3 linked regions of the Homo sapiens genome follow. The protein of the gene in region 3 interacts with the protein of the main gene of each other region in a pairwise test. Each region holds a gene or a part of one and is shown on either strand. Other genes may lie near its edges. The genes, in order: PLLP, CLRN2 and CLEC2D.

The links.
Region 1: the proteins of CLEC2D (region 3) and PLLP interact in binary tests that used the Homo sapiens proteins (3 or more experiments, as listed by UniProt).
Region 2: the proteins of CLEC2D (region 3) and CLRN2 interact in binary tests that used the Homo sapiens proteins (3 or more experiments, as listed by UniProt).

Annotation. Positions count from the first base shown.
Region 1 is NC_000016.10:57,255,596-57,261,723, reverse strand, and holds the end of PLLP (plasmolipin), read left to right. Parts: intron 1-3,139; coding exon 3,140-3,262; intron 3,263-4,694; coding exon 4,695-4,811; 3' UTR 4,812-5,627; downstream 5,628-6,128. UniProt on the Homo sapiens protein: Main component of the myelin sheath that plays an important role in myelin membrane biogenesis and myelination. Plays an essential function in apical endocytosis. Regulates epithelial development through the regulation of apical endocytosis.
Region 2 is NC_000004.12:17,516,026-17,527,483, forward strand, and holds the end of CLRN2 (clarin-2), read left to right. Parts: intron 1-6,838; coding exon 6,839-7,018; intron 7,019-10,791; coding exon 10,792-11,057; 3' UTR 11,058-11,079; downstream 11,080-11,458. UniProt on the Homo sapiens protein: Plays a key role to hearing function. Required for normal organization and maintenance of the stereocilia bundle and for mechano-electrical transduction.
Region 3 is NC_000012.12:9,670,196-9,681,653, reverse strand, and holds part of CLEC2D (C-type lectin domain family 2 member D), read right to left. Parts: intron 732-11,458; coding exon 621-731; intron 1-620. UniProt on the Homo sapiens protein: Receptor for KLRB1 that protects target cells against natural killer cell-mediated lysis. Inhibits osteoclast formation. Inhibits bone resorption. Modulates the release of interferon-gamma. Binds high molecular weight sulfated glycosaminoglycans.

The sequences.
Region 1 (6,128 bases), on a different chromosome or scaffold from region 3:
TCCTTCAAGACAGTGTCTCACTATGTGCAGGCTGGAGTGCAGTGGCTCAATAATGGCTCACTGCAGCCTTGAACCCCTGGGCTCATGTGATCCTCCCATCTCAGCCTCCCCAGTAGCTAGGACTACAGGCACGTGCCACCATGCCCTGCTAATTTTTATTTTTATTTTTTGTAGAAGAGGAGTCTCACTTTATTTCCCAGGCTGGTCTTGAACTCCTGGGCTCAAGCAGTTCTCTCACTTTGGCCTCCCAAAATTCTGGGAGTACAGGAGTGAGCCACCATGCCTAGGTGCACGGTTTTTTGGGGAACCATGAGCCAGGAAGGACACAGGCTTGACTTTGTCCCAGGAGGGGAGTAGAAGTGAGGGGCTGTTGAGTGGATTTGTAAGAGGCCATTTGGAATCTTAAAAATATTTTTCCCGGCCGGGTGTGGTGGCTCACGCCTGTAATCCCAGCACTTTGGGAGGCTGAGGTGAGTGGATCACCTGAGGTCAGGAGTTTGAGACCAGCCTGACCAATATGGTGAAACCCTGTCTCTACAAAAAATACAACAATTAGCAAAATACAACAATTAGCCAGGTGTGGTGGCGCGCGCCTCTAGTCCCAGCTACTTGGGAGGCTGAGACAGGAGAATTGCTTGAACCCAGGAGGCGGAGATTGCAGTGAGCCGAGATCACACCATTATACTCCAGCCTGGGTGACAGAGCAAGACTCCACCTCAAAAAAAAAATTTCCCTCTGGGGGTGGTCAGAATTTGTGCCTGTGTTGTGTGAGTTTGTGAGATTGTAGCTTGGCCCAGGTAGGCAGCCCTGTGGCTGGAGGCTGTGGCAAGCTGTCAGAAGTTGCCCAGGCCAGGGCCTCAAGTGTGCAGGACAAGCTCGGGCACCTGGCTGCCTGCAGGTGAGGCCCTGAGGCCTGGGAGAGGCTGGGCTCCCCAGGTTTGCCCCAGGACAGTCTCCCCAGGACACAGGGCTGAGAGCGGACATGGGAAGTACCCCGGCCAGACACACAGAAAGCTGCTGGTTTTTTTTTTCCTCTGACCCGGAAAACCCCTGCAGCTGGGGTCTGAGGCTTTCAGTGAGAAGAGAGGCGAGAAAGGCACATGATTGTAAGACAAGCAAGGCTGGGACTAGGCGGCATTGTTTGGAATTCAATGACTTTTTAAACCGAGGAAACGTGAGTCATCCTCAAGACAGAATGGGTTTGTTAGATCTCGACATCCCTGGCAGAAACAGGCAGCGTTTGCAGGGGTCGCTGGGCTTGCAGGGAAGATTTTGGGGCGAGGAGGCGGTGCCTTGACTTCCGGGCTCAGGGTCCACCCCCTCCCTCACGTCCCAGGGACCTCTAAGAGAGAAATCTCCAGAGATAAAAGCCTGTGTGTCTCTTAGGTGCAGATTTGGGGCTCCAGCCGTGGCTGTTAATGGAAGGAGGCTCCCTTCTGCCACAGTGGCAGGACATTGCTTCTTGTGCTTCTGGACCCTCAACGAATGGGGCAGAGAGGGCTTAACTGCATCTAGAGAAGGCTGGATTAGCATGGCCAATTTGGGATTTTCTGGCATGGGGGCTACAGACCCCTACAGGATCCAGGCAAGATATGTGAGTAAATTGGGTCAGGAGGGACCCTGGAGAAGCCAGCATCCATCTGCCCATCGCAAGCTGCCTCTATACTCACTTCATCTGTTCCTAGTGGGAATGCAGCCCCTTTGGAGCGAAATCTTTTGATATCCTAAGTTTTTTTTTTTTTTTTTTTAGACAAAGTCCCGCTCTGTTGCCCAGGCTGGAGTGCAGTGGCACGATCTTAGCTCATTGCAACCCCTGCCTCCCAGGTTCAAGTGATTCTTCCGCCTCAGCCTCCTGTGTAGCTGGGATTACCGGTGGGCACCATCACTCTTGGCTAATTTTTGTATTTTTATTGGAGACGAGGTTTCACCATGTTGGCCAGGCTGGTCTCTAACTTCTGACCTCAAGTGATCTGCCTGCCTCGGCATCCCAAAGTGCTGGGATTACAGGCATGAGCCACACTGCACCCGGCCAAGATTTTTTTAATATAAAATTTTTACATGAAGTCTTCAGGTTTTCATGAAATCTAATTTTATAATGTTGGTAATTTTTTAAAAGTATATTGGACGAACTGAATGAATGTTTGAGGACCAGGCGTTTGAAGACGGTGAATGGGCTCCTGGGGCCAAGCGTTTGGGATGAGGGACTGGTCCCTGGTTGTCAGCAGAGGGCCCCTTCCTGCCAGTCTGGTTCCATATCCAGCTTGAAATATCTGGTCCTCTTGGTCCTGACCCTGGCATTTGCTTAGAGCCTTGAGCTTAGGATGTGGCCAAGAGGGAGACAAAAATTCTTCCCCCTGAAGGCAGAGAGGGATGTGAGGCCCAGCCCAGGACTGGCCACAGAGCCAAACCTTGCAGTGGTACCAGGGATGGCCTGGGCTTGGCCCTGGACCACACTTGGAGGAGTAGCCTGTGTTTCTTTAGCTGGTACAAAGAGATGGGTCATGGATTGGGCTCTTTCTGTGAGGAATGGGTCTGGCACTGCCACTACCCCATCACTGAGGCCCTCCTGTCATTCCCCTCCTCCAGCCTCAGGTGTGTTCATGCTCCCTGCTCAGCAGGCCTCCTGGGGACCAGGGCCTCATGGGCTGACTCCCTGGAAACTGTGGCCTCTTGAGGCCCTGTTGGTGGGAAAGACCCAGGTGTTTGCATCACCATCCAATGGCTATTCAAGGAGTGTGCCAGTGGGAACCAAGAAGCCCCAACCGTTGGTCTTGTCTTTTTTTTTTTTTTTTTTTTTTTTTTTGAGACAGGATCTCACTGTGTCACCCAGGCTGGAGTGCAGTGGTGTGATCATGACTCACTGCAGCCTCAACCTCCCGGCTCCAGGTGATCTTCCCATCTCAGCCTCCCAAGTAGCTGAGATCACAGGCATGCGCCACCATGCCTGGCTAACTTTTTTATTTTTGTAGAGATGGGGCCTACCTATGTTCCCCAGGCTGGTCTCTAACTCCTGGGCTCAAGCGATCCTTCCACTTCAGCCCCGCAAAGTGCTGGGATTACAGGTGTGAACCACCGTGTCTGGCCTCTCTTTGTGTCTTAAGCCTTTTCTCTCCCCACTCCCTACCCCCATGTCCTGCAGTTAATGATCTTTAACATCAGCGCCACCGTTCTCTACATCACCGCCTTCATCGCCTGCTCTGCGGCAGTTGACCTGACATCCCTGAGGGGCACCCGGCCTTATAACCAGCGCGCGGCTGCCTCGGTGAGTCTGCTTCCCAGGCTCCCTTGGTGGTCTGCAGGGTCTCAGCCCCAGGACTCAGGCTGCTCGCTTGGTCTGAGGCCAGGCACCTGCCACCTCCTGAGGGGTTGTCACCTGAACACTCAGTGGGTCTTAGAGGGGAGCCGGGCCGCCTCCAGGCTTCCATAATTAACAGTGGAGAGTGGTGTGTGGTGGGCAATGGAAGTTTTGGGTTAACTATTTTTTCTTTTTTTTGAGATGGAATCTTGCTCTGTTGCCCAGGCTGGAGTGCGGTGACGTGATCTCAGCTCACTGCAACCTCTGCCTCTTGGGTTTAAGTGATTCTCCTGACTCAGCCTCCCAAGTAGCTGGGACTAGAGGTGTGTGCTGCCACACCCGCTAATTTTTTTGTATTTTGTATTTTTTTTGGAGATGGAGTCTCACGCCTGGCTAATTTTTGTATTTTTAGTAGAGACGGAGTTTCACCATGTTGGCCAGGCTGGTCTTTTGAACTCCTGACCTCAGGTGATCCACTCGCCTTGGCCTGTTAAAGTGCTGAGATTACAGGTGTGAGCTGCCACACGCGGCCTGGGCTGACTATTGAACCTTGTTGTAAATCAGCTGTGCCACACTGCCTTAGGGTCACGTGCCCCCTTGGAGAATGTGAAAAACATGCTCTCCCACTGACAAGTGCACGTGCAAAAACCTTTTGGTTTAAACCATTCTGGGAGATTCATAGGCTCTCCCATGAAACCCAAACTCTGGGCCCACGTCAGGTGGCCAGTGAAGTGGCAGTAGTCCCCTCCACGCCTGTCACCCTTCACACCACCAGGCCCTGCACACCATCTCCTCCCAGGATCCTGCGACACCCACAGTGAGGGAGAGGAAGGGACTACCAGTTCCTTTTGACAGACAGGAGGCTCCTGCTCAGAGAAGTTGGACGCCAGGCCTGGAGCCACGGCCAAGCCCAGGGGAGGGCAGGGCCTCAATGGGCACGCATTTGGTTCCTTACTCTTCCTGATGAGGGCAGTTTTGAAATCAGCAAATTCAGTGATGGGGACAGAGACGGGGAGCTTCTGAATGTGGCTGCAGGTGTTAGTATAGAGGCTTGAACTGGTTCTAGGAGATTCCTAGGGTGTCCTTTGAATGTTGTCTTTTTAGAACTAAATCCTTGCTAGGTGTCCCCTCTGTCACTCTTATCTTCTCCTTCATTGCCCTTATCACAATCTGACAGGCCCTGCCTGTGGTTCTTAGCTGTTTCCCATGGTTAGAAGGTAATGTTGGTATCCCAGGACCCTGGTGCTCATCAGCCCCATGATAAACAGCTGTGAAATGCATCTGGCTAAGTGTGAGATGGTGCGGCTGCCACAACCCCTCCTGCCTGGCCTGAGATCTGGTTGGAGCTTGTGTCACTGTCACCCTCTCGGTCCTTAAGCCCTTCTCACCTCTCTTTCAGTTCTTTGCGTGTTTGGTGATGATCGCCTATGGAGTGAGTGCCTTCTTCAGCTACCAGGCCTGGCGAGGAGTAGGCAGCAATGCGGCCACCAGTCAGATGGCTGGCGGCTATGCCTAAACCACCTGTGCCACGGCCCCCTCTGGGGCTGAAGCCGCCGCTGGGTCACAGAGCAGGGTCACCCTGCAAGCCTGAAGCTGGGGAGCCCTGCGTGGAGTCAGCCCAACAGGGACTGCATTTGCTCCTCTCTGCCCGTCAGACATAAGCTCTCACAGCGCTAAGGAAGCAGGCCCAGGCTGGCAGGCATCTCGGCTTGCAGGAGGCCAACTGCTGAGACCTCTTCTCCATCCCCCTTATTCAGTGGAAGATGACGGGGGATCTGAGGCTGTGTCTCTGCCTTGTCTTTAGAGGACTTCAGCGTCCAAGACTGGGGCCCACCCTTCTCACCAGCACTAAATGCACTAACAAGGACTCCAGACCTGCAGCCCCAGACCCGCCGTAGTATAAGCCTAACAAGCAACACGTAGCACCTTAGTCTTTGTTCCAGGAGAGCTGAGCAAGCTGGTGAAACCACTCTCCTTCCTTTAAACACCGTTTCAACCAACCTCTCCCTGGAGCCAACCTGTAAAAAGTGGGTTGATTGCTGACAGCATGGTCTTCCCTCCCTGCATTTCAGACATACCAGTTACTGAAAGCAAATCAGTTTTAAGTGATTTCTCAGTGCTGAAAAGCCTGTCCAGGTTTCCTTCCCTTTCCCAAGCCTCTCTCTGTAATACTCCCTTTGGGCGAAGCTAACATCGGTGCCTCCCCGACCTTGCTGACTAGGCACATGGGACGCAAAGGAGGGAGGGAAGCAAGGCCTTGCCTGGCGAGTTGTCATGTGGTTGGTGGTGACTGTTTTATTTTTTTTAATAAAAATAAAGATGAGAGAAATTATTTGGACAAGATGTTGGCAAATCACTTTTACAGGTGCTTGTAACCTCCAGGAGACCTCAGCTTGACTGTAGAAGATGCCTGCTGTAGGGCAGTTCACGTTCTGGAGTCGTTCAGCACCACCTGCGAACTCTTTGACCGGAGGAAGGCTGCCTATACTTCCTGCTTGCTGGGTCTGGAACAGTCCTGGTTTATGCTGTTTGTGCTGGCATAAATAGAATAGCACGGCCTTTTATTCTCACAAGTGACTCAGTTTGACAATAACTTAGTCACCCTTGCTTTGGGCAGGTTAGGTGAGCTTACTGAATCAAAGATTTCAACAATATCATCTACCTTGAAAGTCTGTGAAGCTTGGAGGTCATATAATCAAGGTGGCTGGCCATGCTGCCTGCTCAGAGCTGGTAGAGACAGCAGAGGAAAGCAGCTGAGTACTCCTGAGCTTATTTTTCCAACACCACAGAACAACGTTCTCTGAACAATAAGGTAAAAGCATTTCTAGGTACC
Region 2 (11,458 bases), on a different chromosome or scaffold from region 3:
AACTGAACCTTTGGGAAGCATGATGACCCTTTCCACATCTACTTTTGTAAAAGCTTCATAGTCTGAGAAAATGCAAAGGGGCACTGTGCTTGGGTTCTGGAATCAGACTACCCTGGCTGAAACCCCTACTGGAAAGTTTACTGGTGGGGAGACCTCAAGCAAGGCACTTGCCTGTTCTCTGTGAACGTGAGCGGGCACCGACTTTGGCTGGCATTCAGTGTAGCATCAGAGCTGCCCAGGATGTAAGCAGAGCAGTCTGCACAAACAGGAATCCAAGCTGGACTTAGGAACGGGCTTCTGGAAAGGAAAAAACAAAACAGGCAATATTCTGCAAGCCTTTTGAATCGATGAGATCACTGGTGAAAAGTGTCTGCACAAAACCGTAATTAATCAATACCATGCCAATGTAGGGTGATACAGAATTGTATTCATTCCTTGATTTCTATATTTCAGTATTGTAGTAGTTTATAGAAATCTGGCCAAGGTAAATGTCGTATTAAATTTATAAGGACAAAAAGCTGGAACCGTTGACAAATATAATACAAATTGTCATCATTTAAACACACAAAAATTTACATTTGTTATGTATATTCAAGATCAATATGTCTGGGCATATTTATATTTACCTAGCAATTAGATTAGACCCTGGATATTGAACAAATAGCTCCATCAAAATTATAACATAAAACTTGAAAACACACACACATAAACAAATAAAAAAAAGAAATGCTAAAAGCTAACCATGACAACTACATGGACTACTCGATTCTGAACTAGATGCTTTGCTATAAAGGATGTCTTCGGGACTTTAGGGGTCAAGAAAACTTCCCCTTTGCACTCTGAAGGTTCTCTAAACAATCTACTGACAAAAGGCAGATTAATAGGGAAAATGGCTTACACATTTATTAGCATGCATAGGGGAAAAATCACAGAGTGATTGTCCGCTATCTCAATGGGGTACAGGTGGTTGTATCCTCTTCATCTTAGGGGAAAGAGAGATGGGGAAGTGTGGATGATTTTAGGGGACTAGTAAATTATTTTTAGGGAAATTCAATGGGCTTAAAGAACATACAGTGAGCTGGGACAAAGTCTGTTGAGCCCACAGAGCAGACATTGGTTTGTGACAAAAGTCTGTCCAGCTGTGTTAACAGACTTTAGTCTTTCTTCCTGTGATATGGGTACAATTAATGAACACTCAGGGAAGGGACCAGAGGTCTTTTTCTTTGGTAGGTCTGGATGTAGGCAGGTAAGGGAATGTCAGAGAACAACCTCATCCTGTGCTTATGAGACAGACAAAGAATGGAGAGACACGAGGGAGAGGGGAGGCCAGAGAGACCTTGAGACTTCTTCACAAAGCTTCATATTTTAGGGGTGTTGGTTTCTGAACCCCAACAGGTAAATCGTTGAAACTTGAATGGGGTGAGAAGATTAAACAGCAGTCACATGCCAGCATTAACCTAATGACCAGACCCCTGCCATTCCCAGCTCACAGAAATGTAAACTGCTTCGAGTAGGAAGCTGCAAACAAATGCATATTTTGTTTGAGCCTTGGAGGAACTCAGTAAGTACTTCTTGCCTTCCTCCTTCTTCCTTCTTAGAAGGACACCAATGGGAAACATTCCCCTGGGTTCATCTAACGTGGTCTGGTCTGGAAAGCATCAGAACCCTGTGAGAAGCATAAAGGACATTTTATTCTTGTCCCTGAGTAGGAGCGTATTTGAGAAGGTTTTGTTTCCTGCTGCCCTGGGGTTGTCTCAGAGGAGGGTCTGTAAACATCCATTCGCAGTACCTTGGATGTGATTCTCTTTCAAAGCATTCACGAGGAGCCTGGGGCCAGGTTCCTCCTGTGCTTGGCTGGCTTTACCCCAGTACAGCTCAGGGACACTGATAGTGCCAGTCTAGTCTCCTTTAGATTTACAGCTTTTAATTCTAGCACAGTGTAACCTCGAGGCAGCTACGGGGTATATCAGAGCCTCCCACAACCAGGAGTCTGTTTCTCCTGGGGTCTCTTTCTGCCATTCACTATCCATCTGTAGAAAAAAAAAAAAATAATCCCCACAGTCGCAGATCAGTGTAGATGGGGACGTAAGTGAAAATGCTTTGCAAACTCTGGGATGGGGAGGTTTATTGGGTCTCGTTCACAAACAGCCACTTTTCTCATCACAGAGGCCTCCCCAAAAAATCACCCAGGGGAATAAATTCCCACGCCAATCATGGAGAAAACCAAAGAACTATCCATCGCAAAGATTAAGGTCCTTTTTTTATACCCAGGCCCTATGAAATAAAAACAAGTCAACATGGCTGTTTGGGTGGCTAGAGAAAGAAAAAGACAAACATTACTTTAGCATTGTCCACACATTCAATTGTACTATGGAGTATTTACAGACCAGGCTCTTAAGAAAACAGGGATGAACAAACCAGACAAGTACTTGCCCTAGAAAAGCTTAACATCTGGCCGGGTACAGTGGCTCACGCCTGTAATCCCAGCACTTTGGGAGGCCAAGGCAGGTGGATCACCTGAGATCAGGAGTTTGAGACCAGCCTGGCCAACATGGTGAAACCACGTCTCTACTAAAAATACAAAAATTAGCCGGGCGTGGTGGCAGGTGCCTGTAATCCCAGCTACTCAGGAGGCTGAGGCAGGAGAATCACTTGAACTTGGGAGGTGGAGGTTGCAGTGAGCCAAGATTGTGCCATTGCACTCCAGCCTGGGTGAAAAGAGTGAAAATCCATCTAAAAAAAAAAAAGAGAAAGGAAAAAGAAAGAAAAATTTACCATCTGATAAAGGAGAGGCAGATAAATATATACTAGGCACAGAACACAGTATCTGAAGCCATTGCCTTGTAGTTCATTTCCTTCCATTTTTACTATGCTAGAGAAGAGATTTTATTACGCCCATTTTACTGATGAGGAAATTAGAGACCAGAGAAATCGATACATAAAATAATTTCTTTAAAAGCACCTAATGTAATAGATTGCTTTGCAGCTTTTAGTTCTCTGGTTCCTCTCTACTTCCTGCCTCACAGGTATTCCACTAGTGGCCAGGACCTGGGTTTGACTTCAGATGTCCTGCTTTTCTTATTTGCCCTGCTGGGGCGAAAAGGACTGCCAGACCTCTCTGGGATTCGGAGCAAACAAATTATCTTAGATGCTGATAGATGCTGATAGATGCATCATATGCTGATAGATGCTGATAGATGCATCATATGCTGATAGAATGATGCTGATAGAATGATTAATCAATTCTGCTTTCAAGTGAGTTGCCTCTAATGTGTAGGAAACAACTATATCTATTCAAATTCAAAATGAGACCTCCAGGATTCAAAAGACTCTATGTTTAGAATTTTAAACCTCTACTTATCTGTGCTTTCTGATTTTTCTGCTCTAGCCCTGTAATAGAGTAGTTAAGCTGACACTTTTCTTGCTGTGGGAGCGTAGCTAAGCTATTTCACTTCTCCGAGCCTCAGTTTCCTCATTTGTAAGCATGAGAGAGGGTGTCCATGAGCAACAGAACAAAGAATATGTATAAAGCCACCGGCACATAGTCTGCACCCCATATAGGTGGCTGTTGTCATTTATCACCATGAATCGTGTTGTCATTTATCACCATGAGTCGTGTGTAGGGTCATGGATTTCAAGCTAGAAACTTAAATTTAATTCCTAGTGGGAGACATCTAAAACTCTTGGAACCTGGATTTCAAATGTGAAAGGCAAGTGAGCAACAGCTTTCCTAGGGCAGCACTGGGTGTCAGGCTAAGGCAGAGTCACCTCTCAGTGAGAAAGTAGAAAGAACTGGTGCATTAACACTCCTGAGAAATGATTTGAATTTCTACTTTTTTCTTCTTTTTTAAAAAATAATTTAATTTAGAGACAGAGCCTTGCTATGTTGCCCAGACTTATCTCCAACTCCTAGCCTCAAGCAATCCCCCCATAATGGCTCCCAGAAGTGCTGGGATTACAGGCATGAGCCACTGCCCCAGCCTCGAATTTCTAAATAATGACATATATTAAAAAATAATAAAATCTCTATTAAACATGAGGTCCTGAGCCCTGTGTTATGGCCCAAGAATGTGGGGGTTGAGTGAGATTTGCCCTTTGCCAATAAGTATTTTTTAATTATAGTTAATGCACTTCCTACTATGAAGGCCGAGGACTGGGCACTCTTTACCACCCTCTCCACATCACTCCACATTCCCCAAATTCCCTCTCCCCCGTCATCCTAATATGATTATTTCTCAATTTTTAAAAATCAAATCTGGATATGGTTTCAATCATTATGTGGATATAATTCTTTCTTTTTAAAAGATGAATTATATACATTATGGACATTATGGATACTTTATTAAATCAGTCTATTCACATACTGTTTTTTCTCCAATCTTTTGCTATTGTAATGAATATCCAATATTTGATCCACGCTTTGAGCACATGTGGGAGTGCTTCTGGAAAATAAATTCCTAGAAGTGAATTTGCTTTAGTAGATGTTGCCAAATTGCCCTCTAACAAGGTTACATGAATTAATATTTCTATGAGACTTGAGAGTGCCTCTTCCTTACACCATTGTCAACACGGTGTTTTAGCAAACATTTTGATCTTTACCATTCACATAGGTGACTGTTTTCTATTGTAAGAGTTTTGGTAAGCATTACTATGTTAGTCGTGTGTCCTAAGGATTGCCTGGTTAAGAAAGGGGATAATGAAACAATTTAAAAATCAGGCACAAGCGGCAGGGTCTGGTGGCTCATGCCTGTAATCCCAGCACGGGCAGATCACTTGAGGCCAGGAGTTTGAGACCAGCCTGGTCAACATGGTGAAACCCCCGTCCCTGCTAAAAATGCAAAAATTAGCCAGGCATGGAGGCGGGTGCCTGTAATCCCAGCTATTGGAAAGGCTGAGGCATGAGAATTGCTTGAATCAGAGAGAAGGAGGTTGCACCAAGCCGAGATGGTGCCACTGCACTCCAGCCTGGGTGACAGAACAAGATTCTGTCTTTAAAAATAAAAATAAATAAATATCAGCACAAGCTACTGTGTCTGAAACAAAAAGGGGCTGAGAGTTTGAAAAGAGAAAAAAAAAATCTAAGGGACATTAAGATGGGATAGAAGCACAGGGAAGAAAGACGCTTTACAAAGACAAACTCACTGGAAAGGAGCTCATCTTCCAGGGTAAAGTTTCCAATGCTGATTAGATAACCATAGGGAGATAAAAATAAATGGAAATTCAGAACTGGAAAGAAACATCAGAACGCACAATGTAAACGTGGAGTGCCTGAAAATGTGTCACCTAACGGGACACCTAACGGGAAAAACAAAAACTCTAGTTCTCAGGACTGGGAGACGCCAACCTTCAGTGACTAAGAGAGGCAGGTGAACCAGCAAAGGAACTAGTTCCATCAGGGTGGGTATTCAGCAGGAACCTTGGAGCAATTGCAGAGGAATGAGTATGCTCAGAAGTTCTGTAGCTTTCATAATGTTCAATTCTTCATGTAAAACTACTAAAGATCATGACTTGACACTGTTGATACCATACAGTTGTGAACAACAGTTCTCAGAAAAGGAATTTGGAGTAAAGAATTTATTCCAGTTAACGGTTTGCAAACCAGGGAAACACAGCCTCCGGTGTAAAAGGAAGGTGTATTCCAGAGAAGAAAGGGAAGGCTCAGATTTTATAGCAAAAGTTCCCACCCAGGTTTCCAGTCAGGTCTGTTTGGGTAAATAAAGGATTCAAATTCACTTAGTTCTGATTGGTGGATACAGCTGAACCCTGATTAGCTGGTACAGCTGAGCCCCGATTGGTCATTACAGCTGAGCCCTGATTGGCTGAGGCAGATCTCAAAGATAAAAAGGTGTGGGTTTTCAAGGAACTCAGAAGATGCGTGTGACCCCCTAGTCAGTAAATGGCCACTTGGCCCTACTTTAAATTTAGAGCCAGTTAACCACTCAGGACCCATCTTGAAGGACGGGCTCTTTCAGGGTCACATTTGTTCTCATAGTATATTGAACTATAATCTTATATAGAATTAAGAGTTGCCTTCCCCAAACACAAGCAATTAATGTCTCCAAGCCTGTGGGTATAAGGAGTTTATAAAATCTACCTCATGTCTTTGTCATGCACATTGAACAAGATGACGATGTAAAATGTTTGGCCCATGACTGCACTTAGTAAATGTTGATTATCCTCAATTCATATGCAGGGATTACTATCCCCATTGTACTGATGAAGAAATTGAGGCTTGAGAAGTCACATGACTTTCCCAAGACTGTCAAAATATAACAGCAATAACCACAGCTGCCATTTTTGAGAACTGACTTTCCCAGGCACTATTTGAGCTACTCTATTATGTTATGTCATTTCATCTTCACAGCTGGTACTGCTGGCAAACATAGAGAAAACAAATATGAATTAAGATTTCACTAACTTATTTTGCCATACTCATAAGGCAAATTAATATTTTAATAAAACGTTGTGCAACGTGAGAATTATGTGTCCTTCATACATGGGGATAAGCCAGGGTCTACCTTGCTAAGTCACTGGGGCCTGTGTGCATCAGTTCACATCAGATCCCAGAGCTTCAAGCTCAATGCAACTTAAATTGACAGCCAGGGCATATTTTGATTTTGTGTCCACTCTAAGGAACAGAGGCTTGTTGGTCAACTGACAAGCATGAATCTGGGGGCCATGAGTTCATCTCAGAAAGTCTCCCGCTGTTTGAAATCCCCACGCTTGCTGTCTTGCCCTCACCCCTGTCTGTCGAAGCCTTCGTGGTAAGCAAGCTTGGACTTCATGAAAGTGAGTCTAACTCTGACATTGAAATAGTGGCTGTGTCTTGTCTCCCCAGTCTTCCCACACCTGGTGAAGGAGCTCAACGCAGGCCTTCATGTGATGATTCTGCTGCTCCTCTTCCTGGCCTTGGCCCTGGCTCTGGTCAGCATGGGCTTTGCCATTCTTAACATGATCCAGGTCCCGTACCGGGCAGTCAGCGGTCCTGGGGGCATCTGCCTATGGAATGTCCTGGCAGGTAAGAAGTCCCTTAGGGAGAGAAAATTATGTCCACACCATCATAGGGCTGGGCTCCAAGTAGTTGGGCAGAAGGTGTGAAGGAACTAAAATGCCCCACTGGAGCCTTGACCTTCCTGGGTCTAAGACCTTCTTGATGGGCATGGAATGAATGTCCTCTTTTTCTTTTTCTTTTTTTTTTTTTTTCTTTGAGACAGGGTCTCACTTTGTCACCCAGACTGAAGTGCAGTGGTGCGATCTCAGTTCACTGCAGCCTTGACCTCCTGGGCTCAAGTGATCTTCCCACCTCAGGCCCCCAAGTAGCTGGGAGTACAGGCGTGCACCACCATGCCCAGCTAATTTTTTGTATTTTTTATAGAGACAGGTTTCACCATGTTGCCCAGGCTAGTCTCAAACTCCTAAGCTCAAGGGATCCACCTGTCTTAGCCTCCCAAAGTGCTCAAGAATTTCCTCTTTAAGTTGCAGAGTCTGTCACAACAAAGAAGCATCTTATTAGAGTACGTGAATGGCTGAGGGCTTAGAGCAGTGAAGAGAGATCGAGGTGAAAGAAGAAGCCAGAAGACAGAGAGCTGGAAGTAGGGAGAGGTGGGGGCCCTGAGATGGGAAAGAGATGGAGCTGGTGCTGCAGCTAAGGCTGGGAGGAACTCCACAAATGACAGAAGAGAAGGGTAGTGTGAGCAAGAGGCCATTCGTGAAAGGCTCCTCCATTCAGGCTCTGGGTTGAGAAGGGGAAGTGAGTGCCATCTAGTTGCCAAGGTCTTTGGTGTTCCCCCCACACACACACTTGGGCATATTAATGCAGACGTGGCTCACTGGCTGTCTCAACTCTCCCTCCTCTCACCTCCCCAACACCTTCACTGCACCATGCCCTTAAACTAGATGCAACTTACTGAGCAACCACTAAGGGCTGGGCAGGGACCTGGAGATTTTGCATGCATTGCTTCATTTAAATCTCACCACATCCCTATGGGAGGTATTATTAGACCCACAATTACAGATGAAGAGCCTGAGGCTCAGAGAAGTTAAACAGTCGCACCACAATGAGTGGCAGAGGTGGTATTCCAACCTAGGTGTAACTGATTCTAAGCTCTTTATTTTTCCACAGATCCATGCTCTCATTTATGACCATCATGACCTGTTTTCCAAGCCAAAAACTACAAGATGTGTGTGTGTGTGTGTGTGTGTGTGTGTGTGCGCGCGCATGTTGATTTGGGAGTATATTGATGCACAGAAATTAATTCACATTTAATTATGCACTTAACAAATCATCTGTAATGAAAATAACAGAATCTTGTGAAATGAGGGCTGTCACAGAAAACTCAGGTCAAATATTCAAGGTACCATTAGAACAATAATCCCTCGCTATGATTACCTTATACAAGAATAATATAAAAACAGGTAATGTTATTTTATTATGTATTATAATGTATATCAATCAATCAATTATTATGTATTTGCCTTTGTTTGCAGATGGTAGCCACCCTGTAGAATTGTTTACATACATGGCTTACCCTCATCAAGACTACAGGTGTCTTCCTCATCTGCATGAATCCTCACAGAGGCTGTCATGTAAAAAGTGCTCAACGCTGCTTATTAAATAAATATTTATCTCTGTCCATTCCTTTCCTTAGAGAGATAGCACTCTCAGACTCTACTGATGAGAGTATTAGCAACAGGCAAAAAAGCCTGGGCAACACAGCAAGACCCCATTTCTAAAAAAAAAAAAAAATTAGCTGTCCATGGTGTCCGGTGCCTGTAGTCTCAGCTGCTTGAGAGCTATAATCCCAACACTTAGGGAGGCTGAGGTGGGAGGATTGCTTGAGCCTGGGAGGTCCAGGCTGCAGTGAACCGTGATCATGCCACTGCACTCCAGCCTCAGCCAACAGAGCGAAACCTTGTCTCAAAAAATAAAAAATAAAAACAGGCAAAGCTTTATGTCTTTTGACAAAACTTTATTTCTTGCCACTGAGCTTAAAAAAACAACAACACTGTAGTGTCAGAAGGCAGAAAAAGGTGAATAGCCTTTGAATATCTTTTGACTAAACAATTCCATGTTTGAATTTATGCTAAGGAAATACTGGACAAGAGAACAAGGATGTACATAAAATGGTATTTGCTGTAGCACTTTATAATATCAAAAAATTAGAAGTAATCTAGACATCCAGAAATAAGGTCATACTTACATAAATTATAGTGTGTGACCTTATTTCTATAATTTAGTAGAGACTGTTTAGTCTCTACTAAAAATACTTACATAAATTATAGTGTGTAGTGCATAAAATACTATGCACTCATTTATAGTCATGCTGTAAGCCTGGCACGGTGGCTCACGCCTGTAATCCCAGCACTTGGGGATGCTGAGGCAGCAGGATTGCTTGAGCTCAGGAGTTCAAGACCAGCCTGGGCAACATAGTGAGACCTCATCTCCACAAACAAACAAACCAACAAAAATCAAAAATTAGCCAAGCATGGTGGCATGCACCCATGATCCCAGCTACTCAGGAGGCTGAGGCAAGAGGATCGCTTGAACCCAGGAGGTCGAGGCTGCAGTGAGCCGTGATCATGCCACTGCACTCCAGCCTGGGTGACAGAGCAAGACCCTGTCTCAAAAACAAAAATAAAAACAGACAATAAAGTCATTCTGTAACAGAATATGTAACAACACGTAAAAATGTCCAAGTGAGGGGAAAAAAATCAAATTTAAAATCAAAGTAAGAACACCATAATACTAATTTTCTTAAAGAGAAAGAAACATAAAGAAAAACACTAAAATGTTCAAAGGGTTCAAGCTGGCTTTTAGGATAAAAGTAAATTTGCTTATGATTTTCTCTGGTGTCCAAATTTTTCTTCGATGAAGATATACTAATCTTTTAAGAAGCATCATAAATGTGTTATTAAAAATATTAATTAAAATTGAAACCAGAGGAAGAGAGGGGGAGAGAGAGAGAGAGACAGATTCCTCCCAGAAAGTCAAAGTTTCAAGCAAAACATAGGGAAGTAGTTTGGAATTCTTCCAGTTTTCCCCTCCCTCCTTTCCTTTTTCTATGAATGGTCATCCTTATCCTTAAGCATGGAAGGAGGATAATTAAACAGGAGAGCAACAGTTTTTCTTACATCTTGCCACATAGCCTTCACGGTCTTCATAGAAATCCTAGGATATTTTAGACAATGAACTTCTCCAAACGTGGATCCTTAGGAAGCATGGTACTGGGTAAGGGGAAAAATTGGAAGAGTGGGCCGGGTGCGGTGGCTCACACCTGTACTTCCAGCACTTTGGGAGGCCAAGGTGAATGGATCACTTGAGGTGAGGAGTTCGAGACCAGCCTGGGCAACATGATGAAACCCCATCTCTACTAAAAATACAAAAATTAGCCGGCTGTGGTGACAGGCACCTGTAGTCCCAGCTACTCAGGAGGCTGAGGCAGGAGAATGGCTTGAACCCGAGAGGCAGAGGTTGCAGTGAGCTGAGATGGTGCCACTGCACTCCAGCCTGGGCAATAGAGCAAGACTCCATCTCAAAACAAACAAACAAAAATAATTGGAGGGGTGGAAATTCAAAGCTGATAAAGCAGATCCTCTCTTTCCCCGCACAATCCTGCCTTTCTCCTTCATACTGTGTGGGTTATCTCCTACTTTTAAAAGCAAATTAAAACTTATGTCTTCCTCATAATTTTGTTAACCCAAAGCAAGTTTGTCACACGTGGCACAGAAATGCCACCTCTTACAGAGTTGCAAAAAGGAGCCGTGAATGAGGGTGACCTTTTTGAGTTTCAGGCGGCGTCGTGGCGTTAGCCATCGCCAGCTTCGTGGCTGCGGTGAAATTTCACGACCTGACGGAACGAATCGCCAACTTTCAGGAGAAGCTCTTCCAGTTTGTGGTGGTGGAAGAACAGTATGAAGAGTCGTTTTGGATCTGCGTGGCCAGCGCTTCGGCCCATGCTGCAAACTTGGTCGTGGTGGCGATCAGTCAAATTCCCCTCCCTGAGATTAAGACCAAAATCGAAGAGGCCACGGTCACAGCTGAGGATATCTTGTATTAATAGCCTTCCCCTGTTCACAACCTGTCCTAAGTCAGTTCTGTGTGCGAATGGAGTCCTCATGTTTTTGCAGCCTTCCCACTCCATCATGGCTATGTTCTCAGCAGTAAGAAAAAGGATGTGAAGGACCAAGGCTGTTGCCTGGGCCAGAAAAGAAAAACTTGCCCGGAATCCCCAGCGTCCTTGCATTCCTCTCTCATGACCTTGGAGTTCAAGTTGCAGCTGGAGACTCTGCCACTTGCCGGCTGTGTGTGACATTAGACAATTCACTTAATGTCTACGTCTCTGTTTCTTCATCTGTAAACTAAGCACAGTAACAACTTCGCAAGGCTATTGTGAAATTTAAATGGGTGATGATATTGCCAGATTCTGCATTCTGTAGAGCACTTGACAAATATAAGATA
Region 3 (11,458 bases):
GGAAGTGCTTTTGTAGTTTTCTATGTCTTCGCTTGGTCTATATTAGATGCACTGCAAGCATGTTTTGAAGTACAAGATAATTTTTATAGCTAATTGCTTTTAGGGTACAATCACTAAACGGAGTTTGTTTTCTAGGAAGATGGGCTACATATGCTAAAAAAAACAAGGGCCAGAACATGCTCAAATAGCTAGGAAGAAAGAACAGGCTGCCTGTGATGTTATACAGCCACTTAGTAGTTTTGTGTACTTTAAACCATCTGTTTTGCTATTTTTCATGAAACAAGGTTGTTGTGGAGGTAAAATTAACCATGTTCCTAGATCGGACAAGAGACTATTTTTCAGTTTACTATTTTTTTTAATTTTTGCATCAATATTCTTAAGGAATAGTGGTCTGTCTTCTACCTTCTGAAGACTCTGATCATCTCACTAAACTTGGAATAATGTGAACCCTATTTACATAATTAAAATTTTTGGTGCCACTTAAAAAGTTATTGGAGTGTAACTCAGTTAGTGAGACAATATATTAAAAGCTGTAAAGAATAACAAAATTATTCAGATTCTTCCTCTTCTTTTTACAAGTATAATTCTCTCTAGATGAATAAAGATTACAGTTCACTTACCGCTTAAAGCAGCAACCATTCCACACACTATGATTGTCAGAAACATGATTAAGAAAAATAAGCGCCAAATTAAGGTAGCTTTAATAGAATGCTCTTTTGAATGCAGACAACCTGGAAAAAATTATTGAAAAACATTTTAACAATTAAATACAGACATAATACTGCCAGAAACATTAAGCATCAAAATGTTATTTTTATTTAATTCCTTCGCTTTTCACTAGAGGATGCAAATGACCTGTCATCTTATGAACTTACTATTCTATCTCCAGAATTTAATCATTTTCCAAAGTTAAAAGAATTGATTTTAACTTTCCAGCTACCATATTCAAGTTACCCTTTCAATTGGAGAGATTCATGTCAACTAAACCACAGGAATGAAATCAACAAAATCCAAGTAACTGGAAATTCAACATAGCAAATTATTCTGATTCCTGTCTAAAAATGTAAAGAAATATTTTTAAATGATATTAAGAGGAAATCTATCGATTAAAATAGACTTAAAAGGCATTGTTTTGGAGGAAAAAAGGCAAAACTGGAGTGATAAAGTGATTATTGTAGAGGTCAAATTAGTGTTATTCTTGGAAGGATAGGAGAGTGAATAGTTAAGAATACATGGAGGGCCTCTGAGCCACATAACAAGGATCTTTCTTAGACAATGTTAGCAGTTGTATTAGTCCATCCTCACTGCTATGAAGAACTGCCCAAGACTGGATAATTTAAAAAGGAAAGAAGTTTAACTGACTCACAATTCTACATGGCTGGGGAGGCCTCAGGAAACTTACAATAATGGTGGAAGAGGAAGCAAACGTGTTCTTCTTCACATGGCAGCAGGAGACAGAAGTGCCTAACAAAGGGGTAAAAGCCCCTTATAAAACCATCAGATATCATGAAAACTCACTCGCTATCACAAGAACAGCACGAGGGTAACCAACTCCATGATTCAGTTATCTCCCACTGGGTCCCTCCCATGACAAGTGGGGATTATGAGAACTACAATTCAAGATGAGATTTGGGTAAAGACACAGCTAGGCCATATCAGGAGTCAACAAAGGTGTTTATCTTATAATAATTAATCAAGCTACATATTTGTATTGTATAATTTCCTGTAGTTGTGTTATATTTCAAAATGTCTTAGGTTATCTAAAACCTCTTATGAAGTTCATTATTGGAACCCTGTTCTGACACAATCTCTTGCATACAATTCACACCTCTAGTTAATTTATCTAGGTTTGTCCTTAGCTAAATAGGCATATTTTTCTCCAACATTCCCCCCAACACTAGAGAGATCAGCAAGCTTTACATTGATGTTTCCCAAGATATTTGTCTTAATCAATAGATTTTAGTTTTTATCAGTTTAAGTTGACAGAAATACTGAATTAAAAATATAGAGTTCACATATGCCCCTGTACCCCCTTTATCAAAGATTTAAGAAATCATAAGAGAATCCAGAGGAAAATAAATTCTACATGTAGAGAAACAAAGATAAAAATGACATTTACATTCTTCTCAAAAACCATGCAAGCAAGAAGACAGTGGAAACAAATATTTAAAGTATTAAGAGAAAAAACCTTATCAACTTAGAATTCTTTAGCCAAAAAAATTCTTCAAAGTGAATGAGAAACAACCACTATTTTGGAGAAACATTGAGATAACTTGTTGCCAGTAGACTTGTCTTATATCAAAAAACAAAAAAGTTAAATGCAATTATTTTAAAAGGAAAGAGAATTATACAGGTTAGAAACCTAAATTATATGAAAAAGGAACAATATAAAAAATAAGTGAAGGTAAAATAAAACTATTTTTCTTATTCTTAATTGATCTAACAAATGGCAGTTTGTTCAAAATAACAATAGTAGCAATATATTTAATTATGTGTGCTTATGTATACATCTTTTATATATATTTATATGCTTATGTATTCTTACATGTAAATAAAATAAATAACAGAAATGACACATGGGATAAAAGCAGAGAATTAGATTTTTTTATTATAAGGTACTCACAGTACCTGTGAAATGGTATAGTATTATTTGAAAGCAAACTTATGTTAGTTGTGAGTGTATATTGCAAACACTAGGGTAACCACTAAAATCACATTTTTAAAGTATAATTGATATACTAAGAATGAGAAAATATGGAACTTTATAAATGCTAAGTTAAAAACTAAAAATGCAGGAAAAAAATGGAAGACATGGCTGGGTGTTGTAGCTTACACTTATAATCCCAACCCTTTGAGACACTGAGGCAGGAGGATCATTTGAGGCCAGAAGTTCAAGACCAGCCTGGGCAACGTAGCAAAGACTCTGTCGCTACAAAAATTAAATAAAAATTAGCCAGGCTTTGTGGCACATGCCCGTAATACCAGGTACTCAGGGCTCAGGTAGGAGAATCACTTGAGCCTAGGATTTCAAGGGTACAGGGAGCTATGATTATACCACCACACTCTAGCCTAATGAACAGAATGAGACTCAGTCTCTGAAAAGAAGAGAATGAAAAACAAAAATAGAAACAAAGAACAAAGGCAACAAATAGAAAACAGAAAGAAATATGGTAGATATTTAATCCACCTATATTAATAATCATTTTAATATCAATGATCTAAATGCACCAATTAAAAATCAGAGATTAAACTATATGATGTCTGCAGGAAATGCACTTTAAATATAAAGACACACAAATTAAAAGTAAATGGATCATGAATATATATATGTATTATATCATACTGGCACAAACAAAAGAAAGCAGGAGAAGCTATACAAATTTCAAACAGAACAAACCTCAAAGCAAGGAAATTTATCAGGAATGAAGAAAAGCATTGCATAATGGTATAAGAATTAGCTTTCCAAGAAACTATGTTATGTTTCCGCATAACAAACCTAAATGTGCACGCACCTAACAAGAGAGTATTTAACTACGTGAGGCAAAAATTAACAGAACTGCAAGGAGAAATCGATGAATTCATTATCATAGTTGGAGATTTCAACAACACTCTATTGGAAATGCACAGATCCAGCAGGGTATATTGGCTCATGACTGTAATCTCAGCACTTTGGGAGGCCCAAAAGGCTGGATTATTTGATCTCAGGAGTTCAAGACCAACCTGAGCAATGTGGTAAAATCTGTCTCTACAAAAAGACAAAAATGAGCCAAGTGTGGTGGTATTTGCCGGTATTCCCAGCTACTCAGGAGACTGAGGTGGGAGGATTGCTTGAACTCGGGAAGCAGTGGTTGAAATGAGATGAGATTGCATTACTGCACTCCAGTCTGGGTGACAGAGCGAGACTCTGTCTCAAAAACAACAAAATAAAAAAAAAAAAAAAAAAAAAGAAAGAAAGAAATGCCCAGATCCAGCAGGCAGAAAATCAGTAGAACTTAGGTGAACTCAGCAACATCATCAATTAACCGAATATAATTGACATCTATAGACTACTTTGTCAAACAACAGCAGAATACACACTCTCAAGATTACATGGAATAATCACCATAATAGACCACCTTCTGGGCCAAAACATATCCTAACAAATTTAACAAAATAGAAATCATACAGCGTCTGCTCTCAGACCACAATGTAAATAAACTAGAGTCAATAACAGAAAGAAAATTTTAAAATCCCACTAATCTCCACAAACATGTGGAGATTAAACAATACGTTTCTAAACAACATATGGGTCAAGGAAGAAATCACAATAGAAGTTTTAAAATACTTCAACTAAATGAAAATGAAAATACAGCTTAACAAAATTTGTGGGATGCAGTAAAAGCATTGTTTAAAGAGAAATTGATAGTATTGAATGCATCTATTAGAAAAAAATAAAGATCTAAAATTAATGATCTAAGTTTACACCTTAGGAAACTAGAAATAGAAGAGCAAATCAGGTACAAATTAAACAGAAGAAAAGAAATAATTAGAGCAGAAATAAAAAATGGGACACTGATAGAAAAAAGTTATCAAAACCAAAAACTAGGTTTGAAAGATTAAAAAAAAAAAAATGGATAAGGCTCTAGCCAGGCTAATTAAGAAGAAAAGAGGAAGGACACAAATTATCTATATCAGAAATAAATAAGGAGTTGTTACTACAGATCCCATGGATGCTAAAATGGACAGTTCTATGTCCACACAGAGGATCAATCACTTGAGAGACATAATTTGTCTAAACTCATACATGGAGAAATAGATGACCTAAATATGTTTACATTTATTACAGAAGTTGACCTTCCAAAACAGAAAGCACCATGTCAAGATGGACTCACTGGTGAATTCAACCAAATATTTAAGGAAAAAATTATACCAATTGTCTATAATTTGTTTTAGAAGTTAGAGCCGAGAGAATACTTCTTAACTCATTCTATGAGGCCAGCTTTATCCTAATAGGAAAATCAGATTAAGACATCACAAGAAAAGAAAACTATGGACCAATATACCTCATGAACATAGATGCAAAACCTTAACAAAACATCAGCAAATCCAATCCAATGATGTATAAAAAGAATTATATACTGTGATGAAGTTAAATTTATTTCAGCTATTTAAGGCAGGTTCAACATTCAAAAATCAATTAATGTTATCCATAACATTAACAAGCTAAAAAAAATCACTTGATTATATCAATATATACAAAAAAATTAACAAAATTCAACGCCCATTTGTGATAACTTTCAGTAAACAAAATTCAACACAGATTTGTGACAAAAACTCCCAGTAAACTAGAAATAGGGAAGAACTTCTTCACCTTAATAAAGAATATCTACAATAACCTACAGCTAACATCCTCAAGTATGGTGAGAAACTTGAAGTTTTCCCACTAAGATCAAGGACAAGGCAAAGATGTCCCTCTCGCCAATACTTTACAACATTGTTCTGGAAGTACCAGATAATGCAGTAAGACAAGAAAAGGAAATAAAGGAAATAAAAGGTATACAGATGAGAAAGTAAGAAATAAAACTGTATTTCTCTGCAGATGACATAATCATCTATGTAGAAAATCCAAAATAATTGACAATTTTGGGAACTGACATGCAAGGTTACTGATATGTAAGGTTGCAGAATGCATGGCTAATACACAAAAGTCAATCACTTTTCTATATGCCAGAAATAAACAAATGGACTTTTAATTGAGAACACAGTGCCATATACATTATCATTCAAAAAATAAAATACTTAGGTATAAATCTAACAAAATATATACAAAATCTATATGTGGAAAACTACAAACTGATGAATGAAATCAATGAAGAACTAAATAAATGGAGAAGTATTTTATGTTCATGGAGAGAAAGACTCAACATTGCCAAGATATCAATTCTTCCCAGCTTAATCTACAGATTAAATGCAATGATAATAATAATCTCAGCAAGTTATTGTATAAATATCAACAAACTGATTCTAAAGTTTATATAGATAGGCAAAAGACCCAGAAAAGCAAACACATTATTGAAGGAGATGAGCAAAGTTAAACAACTGATACTACCTGACTTCATGATTTACTCTAAAACTACAGTAATCAAGACAGTGTGGTATTTGTTAAAGAACAGACAAATAAGGCTGGGCGCGGTGGCTCACGCCTGTAATCCTAGCACTTTGGGAGGCCAAGGCAGGTGGATCATGAGGTCAGGAGATCTATACCATCCTGGCTAACACGGTGAAACCCCGTCTCTACTAAAAATACAAAAATTAGCCGGGCGTGGTGGCAGGTGTCTGTAGTCCCAGCTACTCAGGAGGCTGAGGCAGGAGAATGGTGGGTGAACCCAGGAGGCGGAGCTTGCAGTGAGCCGAGATTGCGCCACTGCACTCCGGCCTGGGCAAGAGAGTGAGACTCCGTCTCTTAAAAAAAAAAAAAAAAAAGGAATAGACAAATAAATTAATGAAAAAGGATAGAAAGCAGAGTAGCAGACTAAAAAGAAATAGACCCAGATAAATATAGTCAACTGATCTTTCATAAACAAGCAAAGCAATACAATTAAGAAAAGACAGTCTTTTCAACTAACGATGCTGAATAACTAGACACCCACATACAAATAAATGAATCTAGGCCCAGATTTTACATTTTTCCCCAAAATGACTCAAAATGTATCATAGTCCTAAAGGTAAAACACAAAACTGTAAAACTCGTAGAAGATAATATAAGAGAAAGCCTAGATAACTTTGGGTATGGTGATGACTTTTTAAATATAATACCAAAGGCACAATCCATGAAAGAAAGAACTGATAAACTGGACTTCATTAAAACTAAAAACTTTCAACCTGCAAAAGACATAATCAAAATAATGAAAAGACAAATTATTAATATCATATGTCTTTTGAGAATTGCAAGTTAAAATAATGAGATATCATTACATATTACTTAAGTGTTACATTAAAACATTAACAATATCAAATACTAGCAAGGATGTGGAGCAACCAGAAGTCTCATGCATTACTGGTAAGAAAGCGAAATGCTACAGCCACTTTGGCAGTTTCTTACAAAAGAAAACATACTTGAAGGGAGGGGCCAAAATGGCCAAACAGAAACAGCTCTGGTCTGAAGCTCCCAGTGAGATGAATGCGGAAGGCAGGTGAATTCTGCATCTCCATCTGAGGTACCAAGTTCATCTCATTGGGCAGCTGGTGCAACCCACAGGAAGCAGGAAGAAAGCAGGTGGGGTGTCATTTCACCCAGGAGCTGCACAGGGTGGGGAGACTTGCCTCCCTGAGGTAAGGGAAGTGGCGAGGGTCTGTCCTACCCACCAGGTGTACTATGCTTCTCCCACAGATTTTTGCAATCTGCAGATCAGAAGATTCCCTCATGAGCCTACACCACCAGGGCCCTGGGTCTCAAGCACAAACCTGGGCAAACCAATGACAGCCACTCCCATTGGTGGCTGTTTAGGCAGGCACTGAGCTGCAGGAGTTTTTACATACTCCAGTGGTGCCTGGAACTCCAGTGAGGCACGAGAACCATCCAGTCCCATGGAAAGGGGGCTGAAGCCAAGGAGGAGAGCCCAGCAGTCTCAATCAGTAGGTTCTACTCCCATGGATCCCTGCAAGCTAAGACCCACTGGCTTGAGATCCCTGCTGCCAGCAGAGTAGTCTGGAGTGTGCCTGGAATGACTAAGTTCCTGGGGGGAGGGGTGACCACCATTAGTTGGCGGTTTGCCCCTGACAGTGCAAAGGAGCCTGAGAGGTTTGGACTGGGCCAGATTTCCCACAGTGCAGCAAACTGGCTGTGGCAGGTTGTGGCCAGACTGCCTCTTTAGGTGGGACCCTGAGCCATCCCTCCTCACCAGGCAGGTCATCCCTGCAAGAATTCCAGCAGCTCTGGTCAGGGGCTTACAGACAGAACTCTCATCTCGCTGAGTCAGAGAACCTGAGGGGAGAGGCAGTTTCAGGTTCAGCAGACTTATCTTTTCTGCCTGCTGGCTCTGAAGAGACCAGATGAACCCGATGAGTGGGATTCCCCCAGCACAGCACACCAGCTCTGCTAAGGGAATGTCAGATTCTCTACATAAGCGGGTCCTTGATCCCATGCCTCCTGACTGGGTGAGACTTCCCAACAAGGGTCACCAGACACCTCATACAGAAGAGTTCCGGCTGGCATCAGGCCAGTGCCCCTCTGGGGCAAAACTTCTGAAGGAAGAAGCAGGCAGCAATCTGCTGTTCTGCAGCCTCCACTGGTGATACCCACGTGAACAGGGTCTGGAGTGGATCCCCAGCAAACTGCAGCAGACTTGCCTCAGAAAGGCTGACTGTTAGAAGATAAACAAACAAACAGAAAGTAACAACAACAACATCTACAAAAAAGACTCCACAAAAACCCCATTCAAAGGTCATCAGTCTCAAAGATCAAAGGTGGATAAATCCACGAAGATGAGGAAAAAACAATGAAAAAACGGTGAAAATTCCAAAAGCCAGAGTGCCTCTTCTCCTCCAAATGATCGCAACAGTTCTCCTGTGAGGGCACAGAACAAGGCTGAAGCTGAGATGGATAAACTGACAGAAGTAGGCTTCAGAAAGTTGGTAATAACGAATTTCGCTGAGCTAAAGCATTATGTTCTAACCCAATGCAAAGAAGCTAAGAAGCATGATAAAAGATTACAGGAGCTGTTAACCAGAATAACCAGTTCAGAGAGGAACATAAATGACCTGATGGAGCTGAAAAACACAGCACGAGAACATCATGTTGCAAACACAAGTATCAATAGCTGAATTGACCAAGCAGAAGAGAAAATATCAGAGCTTGAAGACTCTCTTGCTGAAATAAGGCAGACAGACAAGATTAGAGAAAAAAGAATGAAAAGAAATGAACAAAACTTCCAAGAACTATGGGACTATGTAAAAAGACCGAACCTACCACTGACTGGAGTACCTGAAAGAGACAGGGAGGATGGAACCAAGTTGGAAAACACACTTCAGGATATAATCCAGGAGAACTTCCCCAACCTAGCAAGACAGGCCAATATTCAAATTCAGGAAATCCAGAGAACCCCAATAAGATACTTCATGAGTAGATCAACCCCAAGACACATACTCCAAGGTCGAAATGGAAGAAAAAATATTAAGGGCAGCCAGGGAGAAAGGTCAGGTCACTGACAAAGGGAAGTCCATCAGATTATGAATTTTGAGTGCTACAATATGCCAATGTAGGTTATTAATTGTAATAAATGTACTGCTGGTGAAGAATGTTGATGTTAGAGACTGCTATGGTTTGAATGTGTCTCCAAAGTTCATGTGTTAGATACTTAATCCCCAATGCAATAGTGTTGAGAGGCAGGTCCTTTAAGAGGTAATCAGGTCATAATGTCCTTATAATGGGAGTGGGTTTACTATCACGAAAGTGGATTTGTTATAAAAGCAAGTTTGGTGCCTCTTGCTCTCTCTCTTTCTTATGCATGTGCTCTCTTGCCCTTCCAAATTTTGCCATGGGATGATGGAGCAAGATGTGTTTCTCAGTCTTGAACTTTCCAGCCTCCAGAACTATGAGCCAATAGATTTTGTTCATTATAAATTACCCAGTCTTGGGTATTCTGTAATAGCAGCACAAAACAGACTAAGACAGAGTCTATATATGTGTGGCAACAAGGAGAAAATGAAAAAAAAAACTACCTTTCTCACAATTTTGCTGTGATCCCAAAATGGCTCTAAAAATATGGTCTTTAAACAAAACAAAAAAGAGCAAAAGGAAAAAGGATATACTAGCAGCAGATCTTACAAGAATATCCAAATTTAAAGAGCCATCAAACCAGTGGTGAATTTAAATTTCCCTCCTCTAGTATCACTGCCCCGAACTTAATACAGCCAGAAACATGGAATTGAGCCTCTGTCAGCATAAAGAGAGGGCTCCAGGAGAAGCACTAGAGGTATGGTCTGAGGAACAGAAAAGCAAACTCCTATCTCAAATAGAGTGTGAAAATACCACGTTTATTTTTTCTCCCCCTCTTGTCTACATTCTCATGTGCCTCAAACCTCAGGCAATCTGATGATGGTAGGGGAAACTACAGCAACATGCAATAGCCAAAACCTTGAGAAAGGTTAATCCTCGGCCGGGCGCGGTGGCTCACGCCTGTAATCCCAGCAGTTTGGGAGGCCGAGGCGGGCGGATCACAAAGTCAGGAGATCGAGACCATCCTGGCTAACACGGTGAAACCCCGTCTCTACTAAAAATACAAAAAAGTAGCCGGGCGTGGTGGCGGGCGCCTGTAGTCCCAGCTACTCAGGAGGCTGAGGCAGAATGGCGTGAACCCAGGAGGCGGGGCTTGCAGTGAGCCGAGATCGCGCCACTGCACTCCAGCCTGGGGGACAGAGTGAGACTCCACCTCAAAAAAAGAAAAGAAATCTAAAGTCAATCCTTTCCATTCAGTTGAGCTGTAGCTCCATGAGAGTGGGGCCAAACCTCTTGCTTTTTTTTTCTTCTTTCTCACTGTCCGTCTGCCACATGAGCTTAAAGATGCAGCTATAATTGCAGAAGTATATGGTTCATCAGAATAAAAGGAGGCCCGCATTTCTAGCTGGAGGATGGAAAGGAGAAGCCCCTGGGAACCTGAAAGTACGGGTCAGATGGTGAAGAGGAAGAAACTTTAGAAAGAGACCCATGAACATTATTCATAAACTCCTGGATTCACCTGCCCCTCAACTTATGCATGCCTAGATATGGTTCTAATTGGCACACTAAAGATGCTAAGACCTGAACTAATGAGTAGAGCATTGCACAGTTCCCAATTTCACCCCTGGTTGATGCACATGTCTGAATAGCACTACAAAGGCTTTCAGAATGGAACTGACATTGGAACCAGATCCCACAGATTGTCTTCATCTCACCAGGGTGATTGCTTGCTAAAACAATAGTATCAATATACTCCAAAATTTAAATAAGATCCAGTCTAACTAAATATTTGTTCAAAATGTTCAAATTACAATCCAAAATTACACAGTATATGAAGAACCACGAAAATGTCAACTTCCATGGGGAAAGAAAACACAAGCCAAGGAGGACATGACAGAGATGTTGGAACTATCCGACAAACAGTTTAAAGCATTTGGTATAAAATGCTCAAAATACCCAATGAATGAAGAAATAAATGAAGTCATTTAACAACATTTAGAGTTCATCTTTTTCTGCCTCTGAATTACCTTTTCTCCAAATTGATTACCTTTTAAGTTGGGAGGAGAAAACTCCAAACTTTTAAGTCCTAAGTTATAAAACCTTGATATTCCCTAACTGTGGCAAAAGTCATTTTTTTCACTTACTAAAGCATCATATAAAGCTATATATATATATATTTCCAGTGCATCCAATGTAACATAATTCCATTAGAATGCCCTACTAAGTTTCTACTCAACCTTTGTTACTTTTTTGATTTGTAAA